Regions from separate parts of the Homo sapiens genome. Here regions 2 and 3 are each reported to be linked to region 1. The links are microRNA targets in miRTarBase. Many come from high-throughput screens and were not tested one by one. Region 1 holds a microRNA gene; each other region holds the end of a gene's coding sequence.
Evidence for each region. Region 1 holds the annotated microRNA hsa-miR-4736 (AGGCAGGUUAUCUGGGCUG, at 2,746-2,764, opposite strand). A microRNA usually pairs through its seed, bases 2 to 8, with sites in the 3' UTR of a target mRNA and lowers its output. Matches are read on the target gene's strand: a 7mer-m8 pairs with bases 2 to 8, a 7mer-A1 pairs with bases 2 to 7 and ends in A, and an 8mer does both.

Region 1 (4,135 bases):
TGGAGGAGTGGCGGGAAAGAGGCTCGAGGGAAGGTTCTGGCGGCCACCGGATGTGGGCATGGGGCCCACCCACCTGCATGCCACCCCCGATTTCCCCATGGGGAAGGCAGGAAGCTGCCCAGCCCAGGGCCCCTGGCTGGGGGAGGGGAGTAGGGTGTGGGGGTGGGCAGGGGACAGCGTCGGCTGAGCCCAGCCCATACCATCTTCCCCCAGCGTTCTCCAAGCCTCTCCATGGGCTTGGCTCTGGAAGCAAGAGGAATGGGTTTGGGGAGGTAGGAGCGGTAGAGAGAAAACCACCCAGTGACTCCTTCCCAGAAGGCCATGGACCTCTTCTCTGGGTCCTCCGTTTAGGCCCACACAGACCTTAGGGAGCTGTCAGATTCAGGGCCTAGAAGAGGACTGGCATGGGGGCAGTGGGGAGGGAGATGGCCCCACATCCTTCCCTCCAGGAAGGGGGTCCTTCAACCTGGAAAGTTGCCCCATTCCCAGGTCCCTAAAATGGGACAGAGAAAGGGGGAATGGGGCCTTTCACCCCCTTGAGTCTAAAGAGAAAGTGGTGAGGAGGGTTGCCTTGCAGGGCCAGCTGGCCAGAAATGGGGCGATACTCCTTTAAGAGACCACCGCTGCCTCTGACCTGGGTGGAGGGGAAGTGGCTGCCCCAGGCGATAAGAGGATAAGAATATCAAAGTTGTGCAGTAACCTGGGTTCCTGGACCCCCATTCTTCAGGGCTCCTCCCCTGAGAGCATCTTACCTCCTACTCCTGCTTATGATGCCTCCATAGCCCTCACTTCAGAGGCGTCCTGTCCCCACAAAAGAGAGTCACAGAATGGGACCCAGGAGCCCGGCTTCTGGGCCCAGCTATGCCATAGACCCCTCAGCATGTGACCTGTGGCGAGTCAGAGCTGAGGTTCCAAGGGACACACATGGCTCCAACAGTCTCCAATCTAGCCCTTCTCCTGTCCTGAGCAGGGTGAGGTGTCCCTGCTGCCTGTTGTCTTGTGACAACAGAGGCTGATTTTCTCTGTACAACCTCAATGCCTAAAGACCACCAATAGTTTTTATTTTTATTTATCTATTTTCTTTTTTTGAGAAGAGAGCTTAGGGCCCAGCTTCTCTGTCAACGGAGCTTCTGGGGTCAGGGGGTTTCTGGATAGTCTAGGCCCTCTGCTGGTTCCCATCCCGAGGCTGGGGCTAAAGAAGGATGGAATGAGGACCTGGACTTTCCCCAGCCCAGCGATGACTCCCGACTCTGCTGGGCCTCAAACCAGAAGAAATGGTACAGGGCCAGAGACAAAATCAAGGACAGGGGAAGGGGCAGAGTCTAAAATAAGAATACAGAGACAATAAGAAACTTTGTGAGAATGGCTAGGATACATGGAATGGGCCGTCCACCTGTGACTGGAACAAGGCTGCTGGACTCGAAGCCTGACGTAGGCTGCCACCACCCAGATGCGTGGCCTGTGTGACTGACCAGCAGGTGCCTGAGGGAAGAGCAGCCAGTGCCTGCATGGAAACACACATGCAGACACAGCGGCCCAGAGAGCCCAAAACATTCAGACACAGACACGCTGTCGCCGACACACCCCGCAGTCCTGTACACACACCTAGAGGAGGCCTATCTACACTCCTGGACACACCTGCGTCCTCCCCAAGAGACACAGGGAGGGTCACCTGGGAATCTGGGGCCAGTGCTTGACAGGGTGACTGGAAGGAGCTGGGGGTGGATTCAGAACATAAGTACCTCTGTGAGAGTGGCCTGGCTCCCACTCCTGCCTCCAAAGCCACCTGTTGCCTGAGTTCCCCAGGATGAGAAAAACCAAACCCTTGATGTCTTTGTGGAGAGAGGAGTTCAAGTTGATACTTCAAACTCCGCCTCCTTGGCGGCCGATCCAGGTTCAAGCAGGCTGTCACTGGGCAACCTTGGCTCACTTGGACTTGCTGTCAAAAGTCCCCCACGGCCCTCCCTGGTTCTGACATTCAGATTCTTGCTCAGAGGAAGTAGGGGGCGGGGGCGGCAGGAACAAGGTGGGAACAGCCCTTCATCAGGATAGAGGGATCTGGGCTTGGAATCCTGGAGGGCTCCAGGCTCATGGTCCCTCACTGCCACCCCCACCTTACCGACCTGGGGGACAACCATCTCTGTGTGCCAAGCTGAGGCTGTGGGTAGGCAAAGGTGAGCCGGCAGAGAAAAGGACACAGGACCTGTCCTTGGGCACTCCCAGCCTGATAGGCAGTGTGTACGAGTGTGTGTGTCAGTGCAAGTGAGTGTCTTGTACCCAAAGCAGGGGCAGAGCTTCAGGTCTGATGGGGACACTTGGTTCCTACTTCTAGTGAGCACTGAATCTGAGGGTGAAGTAGACACACACATCTACATTTAACATAGTAACGGCAACAGGCACAAGGCCATCCCAGGTGGCAGTTGCCAGGGCCCAAGGGGCTGGGATGTTGGATGCTGTAGTAGCAACCTTAGAGTCACAGGAGTCCCATCAGAGAAGGCTTCCTGGAGAATGTGAGTACAGGTGGAAGAGGGTTTAGAAGGAGAGATTGGGCAAGGAGGAGAAACAGGGAGAAAATTGTCTTTTGAAGGCCTAATGCCTGTAAGGAGAGCAGGCCCAGAGGGTGGAAGAAATGACACAAGCTCATTGTCCGCACATGAAGGCAGAAAAGAAAACCAACCCTTCCCTGCCATCTGCATGGGCCTGGGGCCCTCACTCACAGGCAGGCAAGCAGCCAGTGGGAGATGGCAGCCCAGATAACCTGCCTTACAAAGAGCCAACAAGAGAGAAGCCACAGACTTAACCACTCACAAACAGGAAGTCCAGAAGGCAGAGCAGACCCGCCCTCCAGTAAGCTACAGTTGGGGACAGGCCTGGCCACAAAGGAGGGAAACTGAGCCCCTAGCATTGCAAAATGGGGCTAAAGCAAATTGGAGTCAATAGTCCCAAATGTTGAGACCCTTCCCCATCTCCCTGGAGGGGCAGCCAAGGGAAGCAGGTGCCAAGAGAGGCAAGTGCCTTAAGAACCTAAGACAGCCCATGTCCCCTACAGAGATCATCTCAGCACCTCAGAAGATCTGTCTCATCTCAGAGCCTTGGGAGCACAAGGAGTGCTAAAGGGCCTCCAGGCAAGGAGGGCGGGCAAACTGGCTGCCCCTCAGCCCCTGCCTGCTCGTACCAGACTCCCCTAGGTTTAATTTCATACTCTCCTGCTCTACTCTGTCTGGCAAGGGGCAGCTCCAATGCACAGTGGCCCACACTAGGAGGTCACTTCGCACTGGGGCAGGGTTCTGGCTCAGATCTCCTGGGATCATAAGACCCAAGGACTTTTAAGCAGCAAGGTTAGGCAGCAACTGGTCCCGAGTCAGGAAACAGAGCTGCAAGCCCAGAGAGAGGCAGAAGGCAGCCTGAGGTCACAAAACAAGTTAGGGCCAAGTTGGGTTCTTTCCACAACATCTGGGAAAAGGCAGGACGGGCTGGGTGGAAAGGGGGTGTGGGTGTGAGGAAGGCTACCCTGACCACTGCTGTGGGAGTGGCCGTGAAACCAGAAGCTTTCTCCTCTGGGATCTTCTGGGGACACAAGTGGAGAGATGAAAGCTCCCTCTGGACTCTCTCCACACACAGGTGCTGGGTTTAACTTGCATAGCTGCACCTGCTCCAGTTCCAACTGCTGCAAATAAATTGTGTGTGTATGTGTGGCGGGGACAGGGAGGGGGTCCAAGAGCTGGTTTTCTGCCTGGAACCCACTACAATCCCTCATCAGCCCCACTCCCTATCCCAACATCAGGATCACCAAGCAGAGGATAAAATTAAGTGTCAAGAAACTAGGGGTCTAATCCTCACCCTGTGATTATTTATGGTACAATTCTGGGCCAGTCACTGAATCTGCCCCTAAACCCCAGCCTGTTTCTTCACCTATAAAAATGGGGAGGGAGTTGACCAAAAGACTTGTTTGTGCTCTAGGAAGTCCCCAAGAGCACAGGAGCCCAGAGACCTCGCAGGAGGAAGCAGCAGTATCTGTGTTCCAAATCCTGCCCAGCCCCCAGGCAGCCATGGTATCTTCTCAGCTGGCTCGAGGGCACACCTCCCAAAATGCAGAGAAGGCAGGGTGGCTAGGAATGGCTCTAGTAGAATTCTC
Region 2 (4,135 bases), not on the chromosome of region 1:
TTCGTCCTCCGAACGAGCTAGGAACATGGGCAGCTGAAGCCTGAAAAGAAACAAGTCTCCAATCTTCCCTGGTCCTGTATTTCTTCACAAACTGAAACACGGAGGATTTTTAAAGCGTCTTAACAACTCTCCCACTTCTAATATTATTGGAATCCCTAAGATCAGGGCCCCAGGCTTTTTGTTCTAACCCATCACAATTTTCGATACCCTGAAGGGAACCTGCCTCCCACCTTCCCCGTAAGTGAAGAGTTTAGCGCAGTGGGCCAGATCCCTCTTCCTCCCTCAGAACCTGTTTTCTTATCTCTATATTGAGATCTGAGACTGAGTATTATCAGGTGCCCTGAGATTGGGATTGTAAATGATTTGAGGTTTGTCTCAAACACTCCATATCGCGATTCTCGGGACCGCCAAAAGCCCCGCATATGCAGGATGTGTGCGTGCGGACACTCAAAGAATGCAGATGCTTTTAGGCAACATGTGCCAAACACGTTAATATGAGGCGCCCCACTACCAACAGACGGGGCAGAAACCACCTGGCGGGAGAGATCAGAGCAAATCAGCAAAAAGGAAAAGGGGTACGCGAGGGGCCCGTGGCCTCCAAGCATCCGCCGAAACGGCTCTGCCCTCATCCACGTGAAGGAAGGAAAGGGGCCCCCCCACCAAGTTCTCACAACCGCCATTTTGGAAACAAAGGGGGCGTGGAGACGCTGCCGTGGGCCCGACCGGAAGCGGAAGTGCCAAGGCAGCGGGAGAAAAGAGATTACGGGGACTAACATAATCTCCTTTTCAGAGAAACCAAAAAGATTTTAAAAAACAAAAGTTCACGTCGAGGCATCTGGCGCGCTCGTGCCGCGTCCCCCGCGCCACCTCCGCCAGGACCACGTGGGGCGCAGGGACAGCCGCCGTGCGCATGCGTCACGGGCCCGCGCCCCGCCGCCCCCTTCCCCTCGCCTAGCGCGCGGCGGAACGCTGGGGACGTCACGTGAACGAGGCGCGCGCCACGGAACCAGGGTTGGGGGGCGCCGCGCGGCCGTGAAGTGGGGGGAAGCGAGGGAGAAAATGGCGGGGGGGCAAAGAGCGACGCGAGGAGCCGCCCACACCTCCGCCCCGCGACCCCGGTGCCCTCACCTTGTTTATTCTCGTTGAGCTGCCGCTCGAACTCGTCGAAGTCCGACATGCTGAGGCGGCCGCGTAGGGCCCTGTGCAGCTTTCGCCTCGCCTTGCCGCCCGCTCCAGCCGCTTCGGCTACTTCCGCCGCTGGCTTCGGCTACTTCCGGCCGCCGCCGGCGCTTCGCCACCTCCTACCTAATCAAGCCTCCGGCAGCCCTCCCCGCCCCGCCCGGGCTCCGCCCCCTCACCCGCCCGCCCGCCCGCGAGCTTGCCCCTCCCCCCGAGCCTGGCTCCGAAGCGCCTCGGCTATCTCCGGATACTGGACGAAGGCGAAGCAGGCGGCCGCTTCGGCTGCTTCCGAAAACACCCGAACGTAGGGTTTCGCCGACTTCCCAGGTTTCCGTAACTTTTCCGAGATTATCTCCTCAACGTTCGGAGGTTTCCGTGTGTCCTCGTGTGCCACTGCGCCCAGTCCCCTCTGCGAGTTCGGGTTCTTCCAACAATTCAATCCGTCCCAGTCTTTGGCTTCTTCCACGGACTTGCTCCGATCTTCTCCGCCGGCCCTGTCCAAGCAATCGGCCACTTCCGACAATCCTAACCGTCCCGGCCTTCGGCTCTTTCCGGAGATTTCCGGATCTCGCCCTCGGGCCCCTCCTGGGATTAAGCTCGAGTCCGTGTTTCGGCTCTTTCCGGAGATGCCACTTGCTCACGCCTCCGATCAGAGAACTTCGGCTCCTTCCGCCACCGCTTCGTGAAGGCCTCACTCTCCGGGGACAGCTTCGACTTTTTCCGTGGGTACCTCGGCTCCTTCCGGCTTCGGGAACGGAAAAGGGAAGGAGAACAGAGACGAGATGGATCAGGGGAAGGGATAGAGAAGGGGACGAGGTCCTAGTTCTCGGCACCTGGCTCTCCGGGTGGGGAAAGTGAAAGAAAAAAAGGGCCGGCCTCGCGGAGGGCCTGAGAAGGTTGTGCCAGACAAAAGCAGCAAGAGGGATGAAGGGTGCGCGCGACCGCTGCGGAGGTTGCCAGCGCGGCTTTTTGCGCCTGCGCAGGGTGGAAGCCGCGGGTGAGGGGAAACAGGCTTCTGCGCCTGCGTAAAAGTCGTTCTGTGGCGCGCTCTCCCACTGCTCCCGTGAAGGGGGTTGCGGGGACCAGGTTTCAGTCCCCATTGCGCGTGCGCGAGATTTCCCTTACAACGGTGAAAGTGCTTAATCCCCAGCCGTTAAATCCGGCCACCCTCTTGGTTGTCTCGGCAACCACATCAACGCGCTCCGGCTCTTCCCGCCGCGCAGGCGCGGCAGACGGATCATCTGGCATTACTTCCGGGAGACAGATGATCTGGCGTTACTGCCCCCTGGCGGCCCAACGGAAGTATCCTCCAGACTTGGCCTGGCCGCTAGGTGGCCTCCCTCGCTAGAGGTCATCGACTCACGCCTCTCGCGCCGCGCTCCGGTCTGGGTAGCCCAGCGGGTAGTGTCCACGCTTCTTTTTACTTTTTTTTTTTTTTTTTTGAGACGGAGTCTCTGTCGCCCAGGCTGGAGTGCAGTGGCGCGATCTCGGCTCACTGGAACCTTCGCCTGCCGGGTTCAAGCGATTCTCCTGCCTCAGCCTTCCAAGTAGCTGGGACTACAGGCGCCCGCCACCACACCTGGCTAATTTTTTGTATTTTTAGTAGAGACGGGGTTTCACCGTGTTAGCCAGGATGGTCTCGATCTCCTGAACTCGTGATCCGCCTGCCTCGGCCTCCCAAAGTGCTGGGATTACAGGCGTGAGCCACCGCGCCCGGCTGTGTCCGCGCTTCTTTTCCCGAGCTCTGCCTCCGAGTTTTCTGGGGCGCAGCTGCTTCACTCTCCATCTCTGCCTCCGGGGGGCTAATTACACCGTATCCTACCCGTCCTCCCGCCTGACCACCCACCCCCTTGGAAGCCCCCGCAACCCCGTCACCGTCTTCGGGGCGACGGCCGCCCCCTCCCAGGCACGTCCCCCTCCTAGGAAGAGGCTGAGGCCAAGTTTATTCCAAATTTTCACGTCGTTTTTTAATTTAAATTATCTGAATAATTCTCTGTCTCACGCGGAGTTGGGGAGGTCTGTCCGGGAATCAGGTGGGCAGCTCCTCCGCGGGGCCAGGGCGGAGACGGGGTCTGTACAGTCCCCCACTCGAGGGGGGGGCACCCGCCTGCCTGGTTTTCCAGGAGGAAGGGGCCCGGCGAGGACAGGGCTGGGCAGCCCAAGCGGAAGGGGGTGCCGGCGTTCGGGAAGGGGCCGCGGCCGGTCCGGGGCCGTCGCGCTTGGGGGCCCGGCTAAGGGAGCCCCCAACCCAGGGAGCGAGGAGGAGGGGCAGGGGCGCGGCGGGGAGAGGGGCAGGTCATCCACCGGGGTCCACGGGGGAGGAAGGCCCGGGTGGAGGCGCGGAGGCGTGGTGCGATCACCGCTTGAAGCGGTAGGTGATGGGCAGCAGCAGCTTGCTCTTCTTGAGCGCCTGCACCTTCTTGAGCGTCTCGTCGTCCAGGGCCAGAAAGCAGCGGCGGGAGTACTCGAGCAGGCGCTCCTTGGAGGGGTCGAACTCGCCCACCTCGGCCAGCTTCTCGGGGGCCACAATGAGCAGCTCGGCGATGGGCGTGGTCAGCGCCACGGTGTTCCTGTCCACGCGGTGGTGCTCGAAGGCCCGCGACATGCTCTTGAGCTTCTGGAAGGTGCCCAGGATCTTCTTGTACCGGCAGAGGACCCCGTCGGCGTCCTTCACTGAGGGGTGGAGGCGGGGACACGAAAGTGAGGGGCAGGGCACAAGACTGAGGGGGCGGACACGGGAAGGGAAACGGCCATGGGAAGAAAGGATCTCGGCGAGCAGAGGCACGGGCCGGTGCAGGTGGAGACGGAGAACAACAGGCAAGGAAGGGGCAGAGAGGAGGGGAAGAATCGCAGCCAGATCTTGGACCAGTGGGAAATGGGAAGAGGCAGGCCCAGGAAGGAGAGTGAGGAGACAAAATGAGCCAAGAGGCCGGGTTCAACCCACGCGGTCCCAGCA
Region 3 (4,135 bases), not on the chromosome of region 1:
ATTACAGGGGTGAGCCACCGCGCCCGGCCCCCAGTGTGCCACTTTTAAACTTATGAATAATTTTTGTAATTTTCCAGTTAGTATTTTCAAAGCACAGTTGACTGCAGGTAACTGAAAGCACAGAAAACAAAACCTCAGATAAGGAGGGACTATATAGTAATATAGCTACCCCTGCCCTCTTTTGGTTTCCATTTGCATTAAATATCTGTCTCCATGCCTAACTTTCAGTCTCTATGTGTCCTTAAAGGTGAAGTGATGCTCTTGTAGGCAGGATACAGTTGAGTCTTGTTTTTTTAATTCATTTAGCCACTCTGTCTTTTGATTGGAGAATGTAATCCATTTTGCATTCAAAATAATCATTAATAGGTAAGGACTTACTGCTGCCATTTTTCAAATTGTTTTTTGATTGTTTTGTGGGCCCTTTGTTCCTTTCTTCCTCTCTTGCTCTATTCCTTTGTTATTTGATGATTTTCTATAGTCCTTTGATTGTTCTCTTTATCTTTTGTGTATCTACTATAGTTTTTGCTTTGTGGTTACCATGAGGTTTACATAACACTTTTTAACAGTTTATTTTAAGCTGATAATTTAAATCACATACAAAAACTCTGCACTTTAACTTTCCCTCCCATATATATTTTTTGTTTTGTTTGAGACAGGGTCTTACTATGTTGGCCAGGTTCGTCTTGAACTCCTGGTCTCAAGCAATACTCCCACCTCAGCCTCCCAAAGTGCTAGGATTACAGGCGTGAGCCACCACACCCAGCCACATTTTGTTTTTGATACCAATTTTCATATTTTCATACTGTGTATCCACTAACAAATTACTGTAGCTATAGTTTTATGGTTTTGGGGGGGTTTTGTTTGTTTTTTTTGGAGATGGAGTCTCACTGTCACCCAGGCTGGAGTGCAGTGGTGTAATCTTAGCCCACTGCAACCTCTGCCTCCCAGGTTCAAGTGATTCTCCTGCCTCAGCCTCCAGAGTAGCTGGGATTACAGGCACCCACCACTACGCCCAGCTAATTTTTGTATTTGTAGTAGAGACAGGGTTTCACCATGTTGGCCAGGCTGGTCTCGAACTCCTGACTTCTGGTGATCCACCCGCCTCAGCCTCCCAAAGTGCTAGCATTATAGGTATGAGCCACCATGCCCAGCCTTGATTCATGTTTTTTGTTTTTTCTTTTGAGAGAGTCTCATTTTATCATCCAGGCTAGAGTACCATGGTACAATCACAACTCACTGCAGCCTCGTCCTCCCAGGCTCAAGTGACCCTCCCACCTCGGCCTCCCAAGTAGCTAGGACTACAGGCACATGCTGCCATGCCCAGCTAATTTTTAGATTTTTTGTAGAGATAAGATCTCGCTATACTGCCCAGGCTGGTCTTGAACTGGCTTCAACCAATCTTCCCACCTTAGCCTCTCAAAGTGCTGGAATTACAGGAGTAAACCACCAACCACATCTAGCTAATTTATCTCCTGTGGCAATCACTGAACAAGAACTCCCAAGACCTTTTCTGGTTTCCAAAGTCTGTGGTTCTGACCTTAGTTATTTCTCTTATACTGATCCCTTTCATTTCTGCTGATTACAGTTAAGATATAAGAGGTGGCCTAGATCATGAAGATAATTTGAAGCAAATTAAATTAACTGTACCAGAAAATAAATAATGAATATTCATTGATTACACAGAGTGCTCTGTCATTTTAGAACCATGAACACAGAGGTCTAGTCTCAACTTCTTAAAAGCCTTATTTCTTAATAAAGAGTGATATAAATATCCTTTATTAACTACTGGTCCACTTATATTTGGTCAATTAAATTTAAAAGGTAATCAAATAAGCAAATTAAAAGATAAAAGAGACACTTTTTTCATATTTTTAATTACCATTATTGCACCAATACAGCATACACTTTATATACATATATCTTAAACATTTTCCATTTTTCAGGAATTCAAATACATAATATATTATCATCTCAAGAATACAAAGAACACAACATGGAGGAAGATTGAGAAAATAGGTTCCCAGTATTTAGTCACTAGTGATTCCACAGACTTTCCTTTTAGTGTTTTCTATTGGAATTTTAACATGTCCTGCTATGGCTCTGCAAGAATAGAGCTGCCTGGAAAAGGAGGCAATGAAAAGAAAATGGACCCAAAGTCAGAAAAAGTGAAGAAGAGAATCCAGGAAAGTAATATATTTTGAAACTAAACATAAGGACTCCCTTCGGCCAGAGTGTACATACCCAATAGGTGCAAAAAGGAAGCAATGATATCTTCCCATTTCATCCTCAAAATTGCTCGTTTAGAAACAAAATAGAAAGTACCCATTCACCTAAGAAGCAGAACTTTTTTCACAGCATTGTAATAGGAATGGCAGGGCAGAGGGAAAGGAAAGTAGTGGGAGAACAACTTGCTTTTAAGATACCCTGGGTGACAGGTATCAAAGCCTTGGGCAAAACCTGTCACAGTAAAGCTGTGACTCTCCAACTTCCTTCACAAATGACAATATACATAATAGCAGCTTTCTATTAAAGAACTACATGAACTGAAAAGAAATGTTTATGGAAAGGGGCCAGATACCCAGGCAGCAAGGCAATGAGGATACTAAACAAGAGTTAAGTGCTTTCAACCTCTCTGCTCTACAGATCAGGTTAAAAACTCTAAACCCTTCAACTTTAGGTCAAAGAACAGGGCAAATACAAATTAATGCCATGCTTCAAATGCAGCAACCAGATGGAGCTGCAAGAAATTAAACACTCCTATAGACTATCACTTGGAAAGCACAGCCTCTTGAACCTCCTTCATTACAGATACACCCACTGATCAAAGATGTTAACACAATTCAAACTCAACAAACAGAAAAGAGTAGTGGAGGTGCCACCAACACAACCCTCTTATCATAGAAAGAGACATGTAAACACACAAGAGGGTGATGGAGCTGCACCCAGCACTGGATGTTCACTGAGCACAATAAGCCTGAAGGAGACTACACAGCAGAGACCCAGGAAATAGGTCTTTCTCCATATCTACCCCTATCAAAATTCTGAATTTGTAAACACTGAGGTCAGCCTGTCCATTTTTAGTCCTGGGTTAGTGGAGAAGGAAGTTGCAAGGTTTTTGACTCCCCTGAAATTGCTAAATAGGGCTTCACAAAGAGGCACACAAGGGTCATGAGATGATTTTGAAATAAGTTAAAGAAATTAAAAGATGAGACAAATTTTACAGATGTTAGAGGTCATTCCCCCTCAAACAGACGCTGGCCTTTTAAGCCCTGCATAGTCAGCCAAAACTATGATAAGATCCACTAGTCCCCTACCTTGGTACTACGCAGGAGATAACAGATACTTTCTTGGCTGTACAAGTAACAACACAGGGGAGTGACATAAACCAGCTTGAATGTGATGGAGAAGCTATGAAAAAGATTGTCCAGTCATTCTGGTTCTGGGGAGGAAATGGGTTCCTAACTTCCCTCACAGATTGGTGCCCTCAAGGTCATTTTTATTCCTCAAGTCTGTCCTTAATGTCCTGCCAATGCCATTCAGAACTGGACCCAGTTGGATGGCTGTGGTGCCTGGTTTGGAACAGAGCTGCAAGACAGGAGAACAGAGAAAGCCAGAGACATAATATTAGGATAACAACTCCATTCTTTACTTAATAGTTTCTAAGAAATCACTGCCTAGAATTTCCAAAACCACACTTCATGGCAATTCTACTTACAAAGGCCTGAAATATCCCACTCAAACCTCATCCTACAGCTTTTTTGTCCCCCCATTCCCAGCACTACTATATTTCCTTCACTAGAACTCTTCCAAAAGACTCTATGTGACCTGCATATCCATTGCTTCTCCAGATCAAAGATTTCAATTGACTGTACATATCTCCTACACCCTGATTGAGAGTATGCTAGTTTCACTATGCCCATTACCTGGAGGCAGTGCTGAAGTCTCCCCACAAGTCATTGCTTACAGAAACTGGAGTTGGTGCTGGTGTCGTGACAGGAGCAGGAGAATCCAAATCTAAAAGGATATCTAAACACAAGGTAAGAAAAGAAAAAAGAAAAACATAATCAAAATCTTGGAAGGGCCGGGCGCGGTGGCTCACGCCTGTAATCCCAGCACTTTGGGAGGCCGAGGCGGG

Region 2: the mRNA of CCDC106 is a reported target of hsa-miR-4736. Seed matches in the 3' UTR shown: 7mer-m8 at 3,470-3,476.
Region 3: the mRNA of NECAP1 is a reported target of hsa-miR-4736. Seed matches in the 3' UTR shown: 7mer-A1 at 2,370-2,376.

What each region holds. Positions count from the first base shown.
Region 1 is chr17:58,333,259-58,337,393 of GRCh38, forward strand. It overlaps MIR4736 (microRNA 4736), which reads right to left and starts at 2,764; the gene lies at 2,718-2,764. The region is part of intron 2 of TSPOAP1-AS1 (TSPOAP1, SUPT4H1 and RNF43 antisense RNA 1); the gene reads left to right. RefSeq lists enhancers at 320-409, 990-1,039, 2,064-2,564, 2,150-2,369, 2,440-2,489 and 3 more.
Region 2 is chr19:55,652,147-55,656,281 of GRCh38, reverse strand. It overlaps CCDC106 (coiled-coil domain containing 106), which reads right to left. Exons shown (of 5, transcript NM_001370470.1): 5 at 3,121-3,852. The coding sequence ends at 3,536. It overlaps U2AF2 (U2 small nuclear RNA auxiliary factor 2), which reads right to left and starts at 1,247. Exons shown (of 12, transcript NM_007279.3): 1 at 1,129-1,247. The coding sequence starts at 1,177. RefSeq lists enhancers at 422-501, 1,452-2,121 and silencers at 862-1,001, 1,212-1,261, 1,352-1,401.
Region 3 is chr12:8,095,492-8,099,626 of GRCh38, reverse strand. NECAP1 (NECAP endocytosis associated 1) reads right to left here. Exons shown (of 8, transcript NM_015509.4): 7 at 3,924-4,026; 8 at 1,746-3,585. The coding sequence ends at 3,537. Among named protein-coding and RNA genes, the nearest start is that of NECAP1, 15 kb to the right of the region's middle.